Regions from separate parts of the Homo sapiens genome. Here all the other regions are linked to region 1. Evidence: fine-mapped expression QTL. A gene starts in region 1. Each other region holds a variant in brackets. All regions are shown on one strand. Distances are between the middles of the regions.

What was found. PIP is the estimated chance that this variant, and not a neighbour inherited with it, causes the effect.
Region 2: its variant is the best candidate, but not a certain one, in a credible set for the expression of RIMBP2 in B cells (Fairfax 2012, PIP 0.51).
Region 3: its variant is the best candidate, but not a certain one, in a credible set for the expression of RIMBP2 in liver (GTEx, PIP 0.72).

What each region holds. Positions count from the first base shown.
Region 1 is chr12:130,713,588-130,718,901 of GRCh38, forward strand. It overlaps RIMBP2 (RIMS binding protein 2), which reads right to left and starts at 2,712. Exons shown (of 23, transcript NM_001393629.1): 1 at 2,635-2,712.
Region 2 is chr12:130,492,829-130,498,142 of GRCh38, forward strand. All of the region lies in intron 4 of RIMBP2 (RIMS binding protein 2), which reads right to left. Among named protein-coding and RNA genes, the nearest start is that of PIWIL1, 160 kb to the left of the region's middle. The variant G/A (reference allele first, on the strand shown) is at 2,398.
Region 3 is chr12:130,738,761-130,744,074 of GRCh38, forward strand. No RefSeq gene overlaps it. Among named protein-coding and RNA genes, the nearest start is that of RIMBP2, 25 kb to the left of the region's middle. The variant G/A (reference allele first, on the strand shown) is at 3,098.

The DNA.
Region 1 (5,314 bases):
ACAAGAGACCAGCACAGCCGATCCGGTTCTCCCCCGGGTTCCCAGCACCACGCGGATTCCAAACCTTGGGGCAGAAGTGGGAAACACTGAGACGTTCAGCCGGCAAGTCTCCGCCCACCTGGAACAGATGCTCATTGCCGTGCCCTAGGGAGACTCCCGGACACAAAGGAAGCTCCCGGGTCAGGCCCTCTGGTCCCTGAGGTTTGGCACTTGCGGGTCTAGACCAACCTATGAGGCGTGCACTCAGCTTCATGTATGACCTCAGCCAAAGGCCAACAGAGAGCTGGCAACATGCCCCAGAGATGCGTAAAGCGCCTCCTGGTCACGCTGTATTCAAGGATCCTCAAAGTGGGGTCCCTGGATGCCTCCACCTCCCCTGGGACTGCGTGGGAATGCGGATTCCCGGCTCCTCCCCAGACCTGCTGGATCAGAGGTTCTGAGATTTGTAGCCCCTTAACCCACCCGCCAGGATGCCAGCGCTCACCAACGTGTGAGAATCGCTGCTCCAATTAAAACTTCAACCAGACTCCAAAAATACAAACGTGGCAGGGGGTGGATTTGAAATGGAAAGCGAAGCAAGCTCAGGAAAGAGCCAGCTCCTGCCTCTCCTCCCGCCCCCTGAGCACATGCTGGTCTCTTCCAGGCGCCAACAGTGCATGGGGCCAAAGAGATGAAACTGAAAGCTACAGTGTAGGGCCCACCGCTTGTCTTTTCATCTTCATGGCCAGGAGCTCTCAGCCCGGCTGCACGCTGGCCTCACCTGGGAGGCTTCTCCACCACCCACGCCCACCCCCGGACTCTGCAGGCTTGGGGTTCTCTGCCGGGCTTGCAGCATGGGGGAGGCCGGCTGCTATGCCCCGGGGAGGGCTGCGTGGCGCCTGCCTCCTGCGTGGGGGGCGGCCCCCATAGCGCCAGCATCTTCCTGTCTCCCGGGCACGTGGGCAGTGCCACCCTCTCCCTGACCCAGTTTGCCATCCTCTAGGAAGGGGCACGGGGGAATAGCCGCTGCCAGCGCCTTCCCTGAAATAACCTGGAAGGGCTCCACTCTGGGCCCCAGGCGGCTGCCATATGGCCACGGCACAGCCCTCGACCCCAGGCACGCCCCACCACCCCCCACTGCAGAAGGGGTGCCCGCCGGCCTTCCCCTCACACCGTGCCCCCAGGGAACCTCCGGAGCCGGTCAGACCCTGCCCATCCCACTGGGAGCTTGGGATCATGTCTCACAGGACAAGCCAAGACCCCACAGCCCAGCGGGGGATGAGTCTGAAGCTGATTCCCGGACAGCCCAGCAAGGCTGGGAGGGAGCCAGGGAGGGGCCATGTGCGTGGGGGAGGTGGTGATTTTTTAGAGCCTTCCCCCACTGTTCCCCTTAGAAACCGGGTGAGTGAGCCTGCACGCCAGCTCCCCTCCCCTGCCCACTCCTGCTCAGAGCCCAGCAGCCTGGCCTGCCGCAGGGCCCAGAGCCCGGACACCTCCTCTTCCCACCGATCTTCCATTTTCAGAGGGAGCCGCTCTCCCTCCTCTCAGGCCTGCTCCATCTGTGACATTTCCCTTCCCTGGACGAAGTGGGGTTTTCACCCTTGTGAGCAGAGTCTCCTTCAGGGCTCCTCCGTGAGAGAAATATGGGGCTGGACAGGGTCCCCTTCCCTCCCTCCTCACTCACCCTAAGAACCTCCAGGGACCCAGAGGCCACGCAGGCACGGAGCCAGCACCCCCGCCTCCCCCGGGGCCAGTGACCAGGCCGGGAGGTGAAGCAGTCCTCCCTCCCTCCGGCCAGCCGCCACCCCGACCTCAGCCAGCGTGCGCTCCCCGGGGACAGGAGGGAGGCTGCTTCCACCGAGGCCTCTGCTGACAGATGTCCGGGCCCCCACCTGGACCTACCCAGACCTAAGCTCCTGGGCGGGTGGTCCCGTACGCGCTGCCTTTCCCGGTGAAATACGGTTTCCACTGGGAGAGTCTGCCCCCGGCCAGCAGCCCGCGCACACTGCTCACACAGGCACACGCATGCACGCACACACTCTGCCGGGGAACATCTGTTTTGACAAACACATTATTCAAGTCAGTCCATGGGACGTGAATTGACAGATTCCTGGGCGCAGCCTGCGGGCTTTGTGCATTTGCACCTGAGCCGAGCTGGGGACTCTGATGTGTTTGTCCCACGTCCCCTTCCCCCCCTCCACCCCGCCCCCAAGAAGACAAGTCCAGGCCCTGAGCCGCTGCTGTCTGAGAAGCCTGGGGCGCACTCCCCAGGCGAGCGGGGCCGTGTCCATCGGGTGCCAAACTTTGCCTGGAGGGGCCTTTCTTAAAAGCCTGGGGTGGGGGCCATGACAGAGCCACAGCACCCCTGCAGCTGACACCCGGCACCCAGGAAGAAGCCCGTCAGCCCTTCCCTTCCGAGACGATCCTGAATTCCAAGCAGCACCGACATGCCAGCAGGGCGAGCCGCTGCTCCCCGCACCCAGCGCCCCCGGACCCCACGCTGAAGGGCATTCTCCATCCGCTGCAAGATAAACTTTGTCTGGGCAAAGAGTTTCCGGCTAACCCCCTGTGATCAACGCCGCTGCAGCTCGGGTGCAGAAAGGCGAGGGGAGACGGGAAGCTATTTTTAGGAGAAAAAAATAAATCTCAGCCTACCTTTAGAAGCGAGCTGTGCCAAGGCTCCGGAGGTTCACCTCGGAGACAACTGCAGTGTACTGTGTCAGATTACAAACTGGGGGCGAGACGGAGGGAGGGAGGAGGGGGAGAGGGAGAGAAGGAGGGAGGGAGGAGGGGGAGAGGGAGAGAGGGAGGGAGGGAGCAGCAGAGGGAGAGACAGGGAGCGAGAGGCAGGCAGAGGCGGCGCCCAGTCAACATTGCAGGGCATTGGTGTGTCTGCACTGCTTGCATTCAGCTAGACATGATTCATTAGTTTTCTGCAGGCAGGCAAGCAGGTCGAGAGGGAGAGAGGGAGGGAGAGAGAGGGAGAGAGAGAGGATCATCCGCCATGCAGCAGTAACCAGAGCCTCTGAAACGTCAGTGTTTGAACGCACACACACACACACACAAATACACATGCACACACACGTGCGCATACACACACCAAGATGGCTATACCCCTCACTGCCAGTTTCTTTCACAGAGCTGTGGTGAAAAGCTCGGACAGAGATGGAGGCAAACAGCTCTCAGCCATGCGGGGCTTGGGGTTGGTGCTTTTCTCTCCATCCCTGGGAAAACAGCACAGGATCTTCCCTGCAGGAGGCCGGGGGTCTCCTGCAACCGACAGGCAACCGATCAGCACATCAAAGTAAAAGCTGCCCTGGGCTCTACTCCAGGAAGCTCAGAAACTCAAGCGCCCTCAGAATTAAGTGATGAAGAGGAGCGACCCAAGCTGCCTGGGTCTTTGCTCTCCTGTCCGGCTCCCCTCCCCACCCCAAGCCTCCAGTGGCCCCGCAGATTCCCCCTTCCCACAGAACTTCAGGTGGTGGCACAGATATACCCGCTACCTAGCAACCGGGTGGTGCAGGAGGGAAAAAACCCTGGGAAACACGCACGGACTTCACACACTTGCTTCCTTCCCTGGGGTAAAAATCCCATGGCTTGTTACTGAAAGGTGCTGAATAAGATAGCTCATGCGGAGGAAAGCCCCTTTGGTATTTTGGGCTCCACATACCCTAATTGAGGCTCTGAGGGCTCCTACTAATGATGGCCCTGTGCAGGGACAAGACTCGAGTGTAGGACACGAGAATTCCAAGGAAGGGCTCACCACGGGTCCTTTGTACAAAAAGGAAGGACTTGTCCCGAGGTGCTTTCTGTTGCTTCTCCAATTAAGGCTCACTTTACAAGTTTTTTAAAAAATGGGCTCCTTAGTAAAACCAACACATCCTACCATCACCGTGGTTTTGCTTGTGATCTTAAAGGAATCGCAAAGGTCTCAAACCTAGACAGCCAGAGGAAACCTCTTCCCAAGACAACTTTTTCAACACTGTGGCAGACGGGTCCAGCGAGTTTTCCCAGTCAGGACTCATTTTGGCCTCCCGGATAGGCTTCTGAATTATATGCCTCTGAATTTGGCTGCAAGACTGGAGGCTTCTTTCAAGCCCCGTGTAGAGTGGCCCCAGCCTCTGTGCATGGAACAAAGAGATACGTGCTGTATCCAGGAGTAGGTGGCAAACCACAGATGATTCCTTTTCACCCTGCAGCAGAGTTATCAGGTCACAGAAACTACAAGACTGCAGAAAATCGTGGAAGGGACTGGTTACCAGATACTCGTACACACATGTTCACAGCTGCGCTGCTCTCAACAGCCAAAGGGTAGAAATGACACAAGTGCCCATCAATGGATGAATGGGGAAACAAAATGTGGCATATCCATACAATGCAATATTATTCAGCCAGGAAAAAGGAATGGAGTATGTGATTCCTGCTACCACATGGATGGACCTTGAGAGCACCATGCTGGGGAAAGAAGCCAGACACAAAGCCCATCTATCGTATGAGCCCATTTTTATGAAATATCCAAAATAGGCGAATTCATAGAGACAGAAAGGAGACTGGTGGTTGCTGAGGGCTAGGAGGAGAGGAGATGAGGAGTGACTCCTTACTGGAGTGGGGTTTCCTTTTGGGGTGGTGAGAACACATTGGAACAAGAGAGAGGTGGCAGTTGCACAAGACTGTGAATGTATTAAATGCCGCTGAATTGTTTACTTTAAAATGGTTAATTTTATGTGATGTGAACTTTACCTCCATAAAAACATATGAAAAGACCGTAGAAAGTGCCTGTGAATTGGGCCCCACTGACCCAGTCTGCCCCTTCCTGACTCCATCTGTGTGGCCTGGAGCAGGTCAGTCTTTTCCCACATCTGTAAAACGATCGTGTCTGCTTATCACATAATGTCTACTTCACGGGGCTCTTCTAGGGGACAAATGAAATATTTGACAGAAGGAAATAAAGCTATTCCCCCTTAGAAAGGATTCAATCTTTTAAAAGGTCATTCAGTGGCATGAAAATGACTCTCCACCTTTGTTTTCTCAGCAGAGAGGAAATTAATTGTTAAGGAATGCCATGGAACATTTAGGCCAAAAAGCCAAGGTTCGAAAACAAATAAGCTGCAAAAAATGTTTCCATTCAAAGATGCTGGGTTCTCCCCATACAGGGCCATTGCTGTCTGCACCAGCCCCACTGAGTCTCTGTCATGGCTGCACTGTCGTCTGCAGTATCCCATGTGTGTGGGGCTGCATGTCATGGGTCTCGGCGTGAGGAGCCCACTTTTTCAGCTGGACAACTTGAGACCAAAGAGTTGACTGTAGCTGCCAAGAGACACATGGTCAAATCATA
Region 2 (5,314 bases), 220 kb before region 1:
TTCAAAGGGATCTGCACAGAACCAGGTGCGGCAGCTCACGCCTGTAATCCCAGCACTTTGGGAGGCCGAGGCGGGTGGATTGCTTGAGTCCAGAAGTTTGAGACCAGCCTAGGCAATATGGCAAAACCCCATATCTGCTAAAAATACAAAAAATTAGCCAAATGTGGTGGCAAACACCTGTAGTCCCAGCTATTCAGGGGACTGGGGCTCAGGCAGGAGGATGGCTTGGGCGCAGGAGGCGGAGGCTGCAGTGAGCCTAGATAACGCACTGCACTCCAGCCTGGGTGAGAGAGTGAGATCGTAGCTCAAAAAACCAAAACAAAACAAAAAAACAAAGTGACCTGCACAGGAATTAAGTTTCATGTAAATATCACTAAGTTTTATTTAGGTCTGCCACTCGATTTGGCTTCTGTTAGTTCCCTCCCATTTTCATTATTTGATCTCCCCTTTCCTGCCTTCTTTTTGTTTTTTGTTGTTTCTTTTTGTTCGTTTTGTTTTGTTTTTGAGATGGAATCTCGCTCTGTTGCCCAGGCTGGAGTGCAATGGCGTGATCTCGGCTCACTGCAACCTCCACCTCCTGAGTTCAAGCAATTCTCATGCTTCAGCTTCCTGAGTAGCTGGGATTACAGGCGTGTACCACCACGCCTGGTTAATTTTTGTATTTTTAGTAGAGACGGGGTTTCAGCATGTTGGCCAGGCTGGTCTCAAACTCCTGACCTCAGGTGATCTGCCTGCCTCAACCTCCCAAAGTGCTGGGATTCCAGGCGGGAGCCACCATGCCCAGCCTGGTTTTCAATTTTAATGTCTCCATGGAGTGCTGTTCTGTATGTTTTTATGTCACTCCTAGTGGTTGCCCCAGGGAACTCAATATACATATTTAAATTTAAACAATCTACTCAGAATTAAAACTTGCCATTCCAAGTGGAATTCTTACATGCTCCATCTATATACCTGAAACCCCATCACAGTGTTCTACATTTTCGTTGAAGTGTCATTTATGTACATGAAAGAGTCTACCAGGAGAAAAACAGCCTGGTCTAGCCTGTTACATTTACCCGGATATCCGCCCTTTCTGTTTCTCTCCTCTGTCCAGTGTTTCCTGAGCACCAACTACGTCCAGGTGGCCCGACAGGCACTGGAGACACAGTGGACACAAAGCTGAGAGGCCCTGGCTTGTGTGGGGCTGACATCCCAGTGGGAAAGACAAGCGTTGATCGGGTGAGGATATAAAAATGCAAGCTTGTGATGCATGGGTAAACTGAGGCTCACGGAGATGACTCAGCCCCTTGTGAGTACATCCCACACTCTGGGACAGAGCGCTCATTCTGTATCACTGCGCTGGGGACAGGGACAGAGCGGTTCAGAAGGACAGACCCCGCCCTGGCCCTCCTGGAGCCCACTCCACACCCCAGCAAGCATCAGGCCTAGAAGTTGGCACCTCCCCGCCACCACGGTTCTCCCTGCACTGCTCTGCCCCCGCCTCCACAGTCTCACGGTAAGATGGTGGATGCAAACGTGCTTTGAAAGATGCAAAGCACAGTGGCTCATACCTGTAATCCCAGCACTTTAGGAGGCCAAGGCAGGCAGATCACCCGAGGTCAAGAGTTCGAGACCAGCCTGGCCAACATGCTGAAACCCCGTCTCTACTCAAAATACAAAAATTAGCCAGGCATGGTGGCAGGCACCTGTAATCCCAGCTACTCAGGAAGCTGAAGAGGGAGAATCGCTTGAACCCAGGAGGCAGAGTTTGCAGTGAACTGAGATTGCCCCACTGCACTCCAGCCTGGGCAACAGAGTGAAACCCTGTCTCAAAAAAAAAAAAAGAAAGAAAAGAAAAGAAAGAGCAAAGTAGGAGTCAGGTAACCCACGGAGGCCTCCAGGACCCTGCACTCCAGCCCTGTGTGCTGGTTACTCAGGACACACCCTCTTCCCTGCTGTCCAGAGCACTTGGCCTTATGTGGGAAAAGGATGCATTTGTGACCGCTGGGTCACAAAGTACCACAACTGGCACTTCTGCTTAAGACAATGGAAAGTGTCCTCTCACAGCCCTGGAGCACAGAAGGCTGAAATCCAGGTGTCGGCAGGGCCGGATCCTCTCGTGGAACCTCTGAGGGAGAAGCCGCCCCATGCCCCGCTCCAGCTGCTGGCGTGGCCACGATGCTTGGTGATCTTTGACCAGAAGACACCTCACTCCCATCCCCTTGGGTGTCTCTGTGCCTCTTCTTCTTATAAGGACAACAGTCCTTGGGTTTAGGGCCTGCCCTACTCCAAGATGACCTTATATTAATGACATCTGGACAGACTCATTTTCAAATAAGGTCATATTCACAGATACATAGATTTAGGACTTGGGCGTCATTTGGGGGAACACAGCTGGCCCTCTACATGCCCTGAAAT[G/A]ATGAGGGGGGCTGCTTCACTTGCTCCCCATCTGCCTGGATTCATGCCTCTGGACACCTGCCCCAGACCAAGCCATCAGCCACGCTGGTACATGCCCTAGTGGCTCCCGCCTCAGTGCTGCCCGTTGTCTCCTCTTGCCCCTGTGAGATTTCCCCAGGGATGTTGCTTGGTCAGGCCACTGTCATCACGTGGGCCTCAGCTGAAGTGTCACCCCCTAACAGACATGTGCAGGGTGCCCTGCGCTCCCCTCTCCCTCCAGGTCACCCTGGCTCATCACCGTCTTCCTCCGTCTCTGAAATTCTTATCTATTTGCTGGATGACCTGATTTTTTTTCTGAGCTCCTCCCACCCCAGTAGAAGGTAAGTTTCATGAAAACAAAAATAACCTTGGACTTGCTCCTCGTTTTACTCCAAGCATCTGGCATGGTACCTGGCTATCCTTCTGTCTATTCTAGTAGATTCCTTTGAGGGTGTATATCAATGAAATTGCTCACGGTATTAGCAATTCTTGATCACTAACCTCTCCAGCACCAGCCACTATGTTAGATCACTGGGCACATTCTATGCTTTGAACCCTTACATCTAGAAAGGTACTTTATGGCCACTTTAAAGATGAGAGAACACCCCGGTTCTCAGAAATTAGTTAGCTTGATCACACGTAAACAACTAGTTAATCATCAAATTCAAATTTGAACTCAGACTGGTCTAACTAAAAGCCCAAAGTCTTTGAATTAGGTCATGCTACTGAGATCAACGGGAACGTCCCCCTAGGGTGGGTGATGATTCTGCCGCTGACTCATTGGACCTAAACTGTAAAGCATTGTGGACCACGGCAGAGAGTACGTCCGTGCCTGTAGCCATGTGATACGGTTTGGCTGTGCCCCACCCAAATCTCATCTTGAATAGTAACTCCAGTAATTCCCATGTCTTGTGGGAGGGACCTGGTGGGAGATAATTGGATCATGGGGGCGGTGTCCCCCACACTGTTCTGTGGTAGTTAATAAATCTCACAAGATCTGAAGGTTTTATCAGTGGAAACCCCTTTCTCTTGATTCTCATTCCCTTCTCTTCTCTTGCCTGCTCCCACGTGACACATGACTTTCACCTACCACCATGATTGTGAGGCCTCCCCAGCCACATAGAATGGTGAGTCCATTAAACCTCTTTCCTGTATAAATTACCCAGTCTCGAGTATGTCTTTATTAGCAGCATGAAAAAGGACTAAACCACCATCTCACTGTCCTCACTCCGGTCTCAGCAGCCCTGCTGAGCAGCTCTGGGGTAGAGGAGGCTGCGAGGGGTGAGGCTCCATCCACTTCCTGCAGGAGGGATGCTTCTGTCCACGGGAGACCAGCACACAGTGATACCTCATGAAAGGCCACGTTCCCATCACCCTGAGCCCCCTTCTATGTCGGGCCCCCAGCAGCTATGGCGCTGGGCAGGCCCGCTCCCCAGAAAGTGACCACATGATGGTTTCCTGCCTGTGATGGCCTCCTTCAGGCACACCTTTCTCTCACCTGCAGGCCACCCAGAGGAGCCAAGGAGGACCGCACACTTCTCTGCACACTGGGACTGCTGTCCTCTCCCTGAGGAGTGGGACCCTCAAGTTGTTCTGCCCAGGCCATCAGACCATGACTGCCCCGATGTCACTGAGCAGAGTACAGAGAGACTGGGATGTGTATACACTGGGGGCTTAAAACAACAGCAACCCATCCTCTCATGCCCTGGAGGCCGGAAGTCTTCAGTCGAGGTGTGGACAGGGCCATGTACCCTCCGAAAGCTCCAGGGCAGGCTCTTCCCCATCTTGCCAGGCTCCTGGGCGCTCCATGGCTCTGATCTCTGCCTCCATCCACACGTGGCTTCCTCCCTGAGCGTCTGTGTCTCTATCCAAACTCCCCTCTCCTTTCTTTCCAAAGCCTGTCACTGAACGAGGGCCCTCCCTGATGTGCGACCGCACCTTCACCTAGTTACATCTCCAAACACACTATTTCCAAATTAGGCCCCGCGCCCCAGTTCTGGGTGGACATGACTGTGGGGAGGCTGATTGAATCTACCCCTCTGTCCAGAAGCTTCTCACCTGCCTTCTGCTCCCTGGGCTCCGTAATCACTGATTCTGCTCACAGCCTCTGGTGGGTCCACCAGTCCCTGCCTCTAACTGCTTCTAGATTGAGCTCTCTGAATCTAGAAACCTTGTGAGTGTGAAGTTAAACCGTCCTTCCCTGCCAGGACTCTAAAATAAAAGCAGCTGTCGCTCTACCGCATCCGACGAACAGAACTGTCTCACGGGCCATGGGAGAAGGGGCTGGAGAGATGCGTTCTGGCCGTGGCTGTGAGCGAAGCACCACCGGTTGCAGTCCCTTTACCCAGGAGCTGGGGAGAGGCTGAGGACCCAGAATGTCTTGTGTATCAGGCAGTAGAAACTCACATGAAAAACACATGAGGCTTTTTTTGTTTTGTTTTTTTGCAGTGAGTAAAAAAGCCCAATGCGTTTTTTATTTGAATCTGAGAAGCTGGAGAATAAAAAGCATTTTGTTTATTTTATCACAATGCACTCACTTCTGACAGGCACCCTGCTTCAGAGGAGTGCTGGGTGTTTTGATCAGACTCCTGTGCCAGGACCTAAGAGGAGGACTGACTCTGGGTTAAATGCAACAAGGAGTGCGCGGTGGGGAGATCCTTGTCTGACACCAGCCTGGGCTGAGGAGATGCCGGAAATCACCAACTCTCCTGTGTTTATTCCCCTTGGAGAGTCTCTGTCTATTCCAGAAAGGAACTGCAGATTGATCTGTAGATGTGACTTTATACAGTCACCTGTGAGCCCCAGAGAAGCACCTCTGCAGAGAAGCACCCTGACTCCAGGCCTCCTGCTGCTCGGTCATTCTCCATGAAGGCAGCACTGACTCCAGGCCTCCGGCTGC
Region 3 (5,314 bases), 25 kb after region 1:
TAAGAGGAGATTGTGTGTCAAACTGCAGGAAAGGCTGCTTAAAGGTAGGCCCCTCTGGGAGGGGCATTCTTGTCCCATTTCCCCTTCTTCTGGTCTACCACCTGGAATGTGGATGTGATGGCTGGAGCTTCAGCCACCATACTGGCCTATGAGGTCACCTTAAGAATGGAGTCTTCACATGAGGATGATAAAGCAAAAAGATAAAAGCTCAGTCCCTCTTGGAGCTGCCAAACTAGCTTCTGGAATTTTTTTTTTTTTTTTTTTTTTTTTTAGACAAGGTTTCACTCTGGTTGCCCCAGCTAGAGTGCAATGACATGATCTTTGTTCACTGCAGCCTCCACCTCCTGGGCTCAAGCGATTCTCCTGCCTCAGCCTCCCAAGTAGCTGGGATTACAAGTGTGTATCACTGCGCCCAGCTAATGTTTGTATTTTTTGTAGAGACAGGGTTTCACCATGTGGACCAGGCTGGTCTTGAACTCCTCAGCTCAGATGATCTGCCCACCTCAGCCCTAGATTTCTGTTACATGAGAAAGGAGTAAACGTCTATGTCTAAGCCACTATTATTTTTGCCTGTAGAAGCAGCTGCGCCCAGGCCTAACTGGCACAGCTGGATTATTCAGCAAACCCAGAGACTAACACGTCCTCCAGGATAACTATGACCTTACAGTGCCCTTGAACTGATTCCACAAGTCAGCCTGCAGCCTGAGGTGGAACTGAGCCTGTATACATTTTGGTCCACCCAATTTTTAAACTGAATTTGATGGCAAGATTTAAAAATCTGGGGGTTGCACACGCAATTCCAGATTTCTGACTTCTCTTGAAAAACCAGATCTAGGGACACTGGCCCTCTGCCCTCAGGCCAGCAGTTGGCAGCCTCTGGGCAGGGGGTGCCCACTGTCCTTGGGCCCTCCGCTCCCCTGCCCACCCCAGCATCCTCTGTCTGGCTTCACCCGCTTGTTCGTCCCTCCCACCCTGGAAGGGTGTGAGTGTGTGAGCCCCAAGTCGCACAACTTAAAGTTGGTGACACCTGCCAGGCATAAGGATAGACCACAGATACAGCATGAGAGGGAAAGCAGGGCGTGAGAGACGGCCAGTGACCCCATCCCCGCAGAGGGGCCCCCACGGGAGGAAGCCCAGGAGAGGGCCCTTTGGGGACACTTGGTTCCACCTGACACCGAGCGGCTTCAGCTCAGTGACTCCAGTTTGACCTTTCCCCCTAAGAGGGTCCCCTCCACGGTCTGGGTGCTCCCAGTGCTCTGGTAAAGAGAAGGTTCTCTTGCGATGAGAAAGTCTGTATTTGGATTTTTTAATGGAATCAGGCAAACTTTTGCTGGACTATTTCCAAAACCCCAAAATCAGGGCTGCAAAACATGAGCATGAAACATCCACTTCAACTTTTTAAAATACGTATCAATCCTCTTTGCAAAGGAAAAAAAAACAGAATACACAGAGATGGCTTGAGATGTGGGTCTCCAGCACCCCCACATCCTTCCCCGATAGACAGATTCCTACAGAGTCCACATATATACGTCTCCCCAGATACGTTCCTACATGTGCTCACGCTGCATGTTTCCGCCAGTGCCGGACATCTTCACGTTGTGTGTTTCACTGGCTGACACCCCTGCCCCATTGGCTGGAAATCCAGGAGCAAGAACCCCACTGCTGGTCAAGCCTGTGTGGCAGCTATCACACAGAAGGTTGACTATCTCAATCTAGTCCCACTGTGGGAATTGCCCACAAACCTCCCTCTCTGAGAAAATAAACTAACAGATTGTCTCCAACCAACCCCCAAGCCTAGAACACTCATTCCCCTCGGCTGCTGACTTGCTGGCGCCCACCCGAAACACCCTGGGACTAGAAGCCTGGGCTCTTGTGCCACCAAGAACCGGCTGTGGGTGCAACACTTTGATCCAGAAGTGTCCTGGCCGATCCAGGTTATGTTGCCCAATCTGCACAACCAGACAGAGCTAAACAAACTAAGCAAAGAGCCACATCCTTCTGAAGCGCTGGGTTCCCTGGAGTGTGCCTTACAATGATGAAAATTCTCTTCTTGGAGTGTGGCTAATTGAGGCACTAAATATAAACATCCTGATTTGGTGAATTTTCCTTTTGGGATTTAGCATCCTATGGCTGCAAGAGATAGGAATTCTAGAAAATGATTCCCTAATTGTCAAGACCTCACAAAGAGGTGGAAAAGAAACATCATCTCACGGTCAAGCGGAACCCATAAATGCGGGGAGGCGGGAGGCAGAAGCAGGGAGTGGGGCTCGTGGGAACTGGAGGAGCCCATGCCCACCAAAAATAACTCAGATTAATTTAAAACTGTACAAGACAAACAAAACCCATGTGTGTCAGCTCTTGGTTGAGGTCCTTCTTTATAATAATTTTGATATAGTTTGGCTGTTCCCCACCCAAATCTCATCTTGAACTGTAGCTCCCACAATTCCCACATGTTGTGGGAGGGACCCAGTTGGAGATGACGGAATCATGTGGGCGGTTTTCCCCATACTGTTCTTGTGGGAGTGAACGAGTCTCACGAGAGCTGATCTTTCTCTCTTGCCTGCCGCCATGTAAGACATGCCTTTGCTTCTCCTGGCCTTCTGCAATGATTGTGAGGCCTCCCCAGCCAGGTGGAACTATGAGTCCATTAAACCTCTTTCCTTTGTAAATTGCCCAGTCTCGAGTATGTGTTTATTAGCAGCATGAGAAAAGACTAATACAAGTTTCTAGAGGAAAACCTCTTGACACAGGCAAAGGGGACTTGGCCGTTCTAAGCCCAGTTGATGTCAGCGCCCTTGAGATCATACAACAGGCTGCTGCACAATTTGATTCCTTCATTGCAAATTTATGTGCCAGCAATTAAGACCCTAAAGCTTCTAGGTCAGAGGCTAGAGAGTAGAAATATCACCCCTAAGGAGGAATTCTGAGTTTTCAGGGCCAAACAAGTTGACTGTGGCATAAGGTGCAGATCAGTAGACTATGGCCCATGAACCAATTCTGGCCCACCGCTTGTTTTTATAAATGAAGTTTTAATGGAACGCTGTCACAGCTAATTGCTTACATATTCTCCATGGCAGCTTCTGCACTCTTATGGCAA[G/A]GTTAACTAGTAGTGACAGAGACTATAAGGCCAGCTGAGCCTAAAATATTTACTGTCTCATTCTTTACAGAAAACGTTTGCTGTTCCCTGGTCAAATGTTTTGTTTGTTTTTGGTCAAAGTTTTTTCCAAACATTTTGATCATATACATATATTTAGCATACCTCTACTGGCAGGAATGATCAAAGATTTCTAAATTTTAGATATCCCTACTGGTAAAAAAGCTATGGGGGCTGCACCTCTAATATATGGGTGAAATACCAGATATTTACACAGCTTCAAAGCATCTCCCCATGAACTATTTATTAATTACAAAGGGGAAACCAGTAGCCTCAGAGTGGGAAATCTATAACAGACACTACCTGAACCAGGCGACCAAAGTCAACATCACCAGCAGCGGGACCGACCAAAGTCCTGCGCGTCCTGATAGGGATACTGAGGCCAGGACGTCACTTCCACAGTAACTTATCTACATATCATGGGCCTGCCAAGGACGCACAACTAAACCAAATCATGACGAAACACCAAGCAAACCCAAACCCAGGGACGGCCTGCAGAGTAACTTGCTATACTCTTCAATCGGGTCAAAGAGACGGGGACTGCTCCAGATGGAAGGAGACTGGAACACGTGGCCAACACATGCAGTGTGAGATCCTGGGTCGGCCTCTGGACTGGGAAACAAAGTGGCCATTAGGAAGTTATTGGGGCAGTTGATCAAATGAGAATAGGGACTGCAGATTAGGTCATAGTATTGTATCAGTATTAGATTTTCAGATTTTGAACTTTGTATTGTGGTGGTATAAGAGAATCTCCTTGTTTTTAGAAAAAAACACACTGAAATATTAAGGATAAAGGATAAGATATCTGAATTTACTTTCAAATAGATAATTCTGGGGGAAAATCTCTTTCCTCTATTTCCCTCTCTTCTCTCTGTATGGATAGCAGACGATAGAGGGATGACAGATAGAAGATGGATAGATAGATAATTGATAGGTAATAAGGTAATAGATAGGTGATAGGTAGACAGATGATAGATAATAGCCAGATGATAGATAATAGATGATCAATAGATTGATAGATGATTAATAGATATAGATAGATAGATAGATAGATAGATAGATAGATAGATAGATAGATACCAAGAAACCAATGATAAAAAATTGGGGCAAAATATAAACAGTTTAATAATTCTGGATAAAGGTTTGAAGGAGTTATTTACACTATTCTTGCTGCTTTTCTGCATTAAATTATATCAAAATAATAAAAGTTTTTTAAGGCAGTAGAAAAATCTCTAAATCATCCCAAAGACAGAGAAAGCTCTTTTCTTTGTGTCATTCCTGGGGGCCATGCTCTCCAGGCTCATTTATCTACAGGCCAGTAATGCAAAGGGCATTTACTCTGAGCTACCTGAACACCGACCCCACCCCAGGCCCTCACTGTTCACCTCCAGTAGACTGATTTCTGGGTGTCTGTCCAGACTGGCATCCCTGGGCACCTGCTGGAGGGGCTGGGATTCTCTGTGGCACTGATGACCTTTGGATTTGGTGGAGAGAACCCTTGCAGAGGGCATCGCCCTCTCCCTGGTGAGGTACAGGGTGAACAGTTCTCCTAAACAGAAGAGGAGAAAGTCATTAGGCAAAACTCAGTACCCCTAATGGGACAGATACTGCTAATGCTTTCTGATATCCATTCACCCCTTTTCCTATATAAACAGAAATATACTGATTAATTCAGGGTGGCAGTGAACCCTGATTCTGCTGGAGCAACAGGTAGCTGTGTTACACTCTTCTGGCCAATGAGGTCTAAGCAAAAATCTGACGGGCATAGAGAGGAGAGAGTTCTGGGAAAGTGCTGGCTTTCCTTATAAGAGGAAACAAATGAAATTAGTGTTATCCCTCATTCCTCATTCTCCTGCTTCCCATTCTGAATTCAGATGTGATGGCTGGAGCTGTGGCAGCCATCCTTCAACCACGAGGCAAAGGCCCAGAGAATCATAAGAACGACAGCCAGGCATCCTCGATGCATTGAATCCTTGCTCTCAGTTGACCATATTCAAACCCCTCCTCTTGTGAGAAAAACAAAGCCCTATGTGTTAAGCCACTGTTAGCCATGTATTCTATTGCTTTGCTCAAACCCATTTTAAACGAATGTAACAATTTTCTTCCTTTTCATTTTAAGCTCCAGATATAGTTGTAGTAAAATAGACCGCACTATATTTT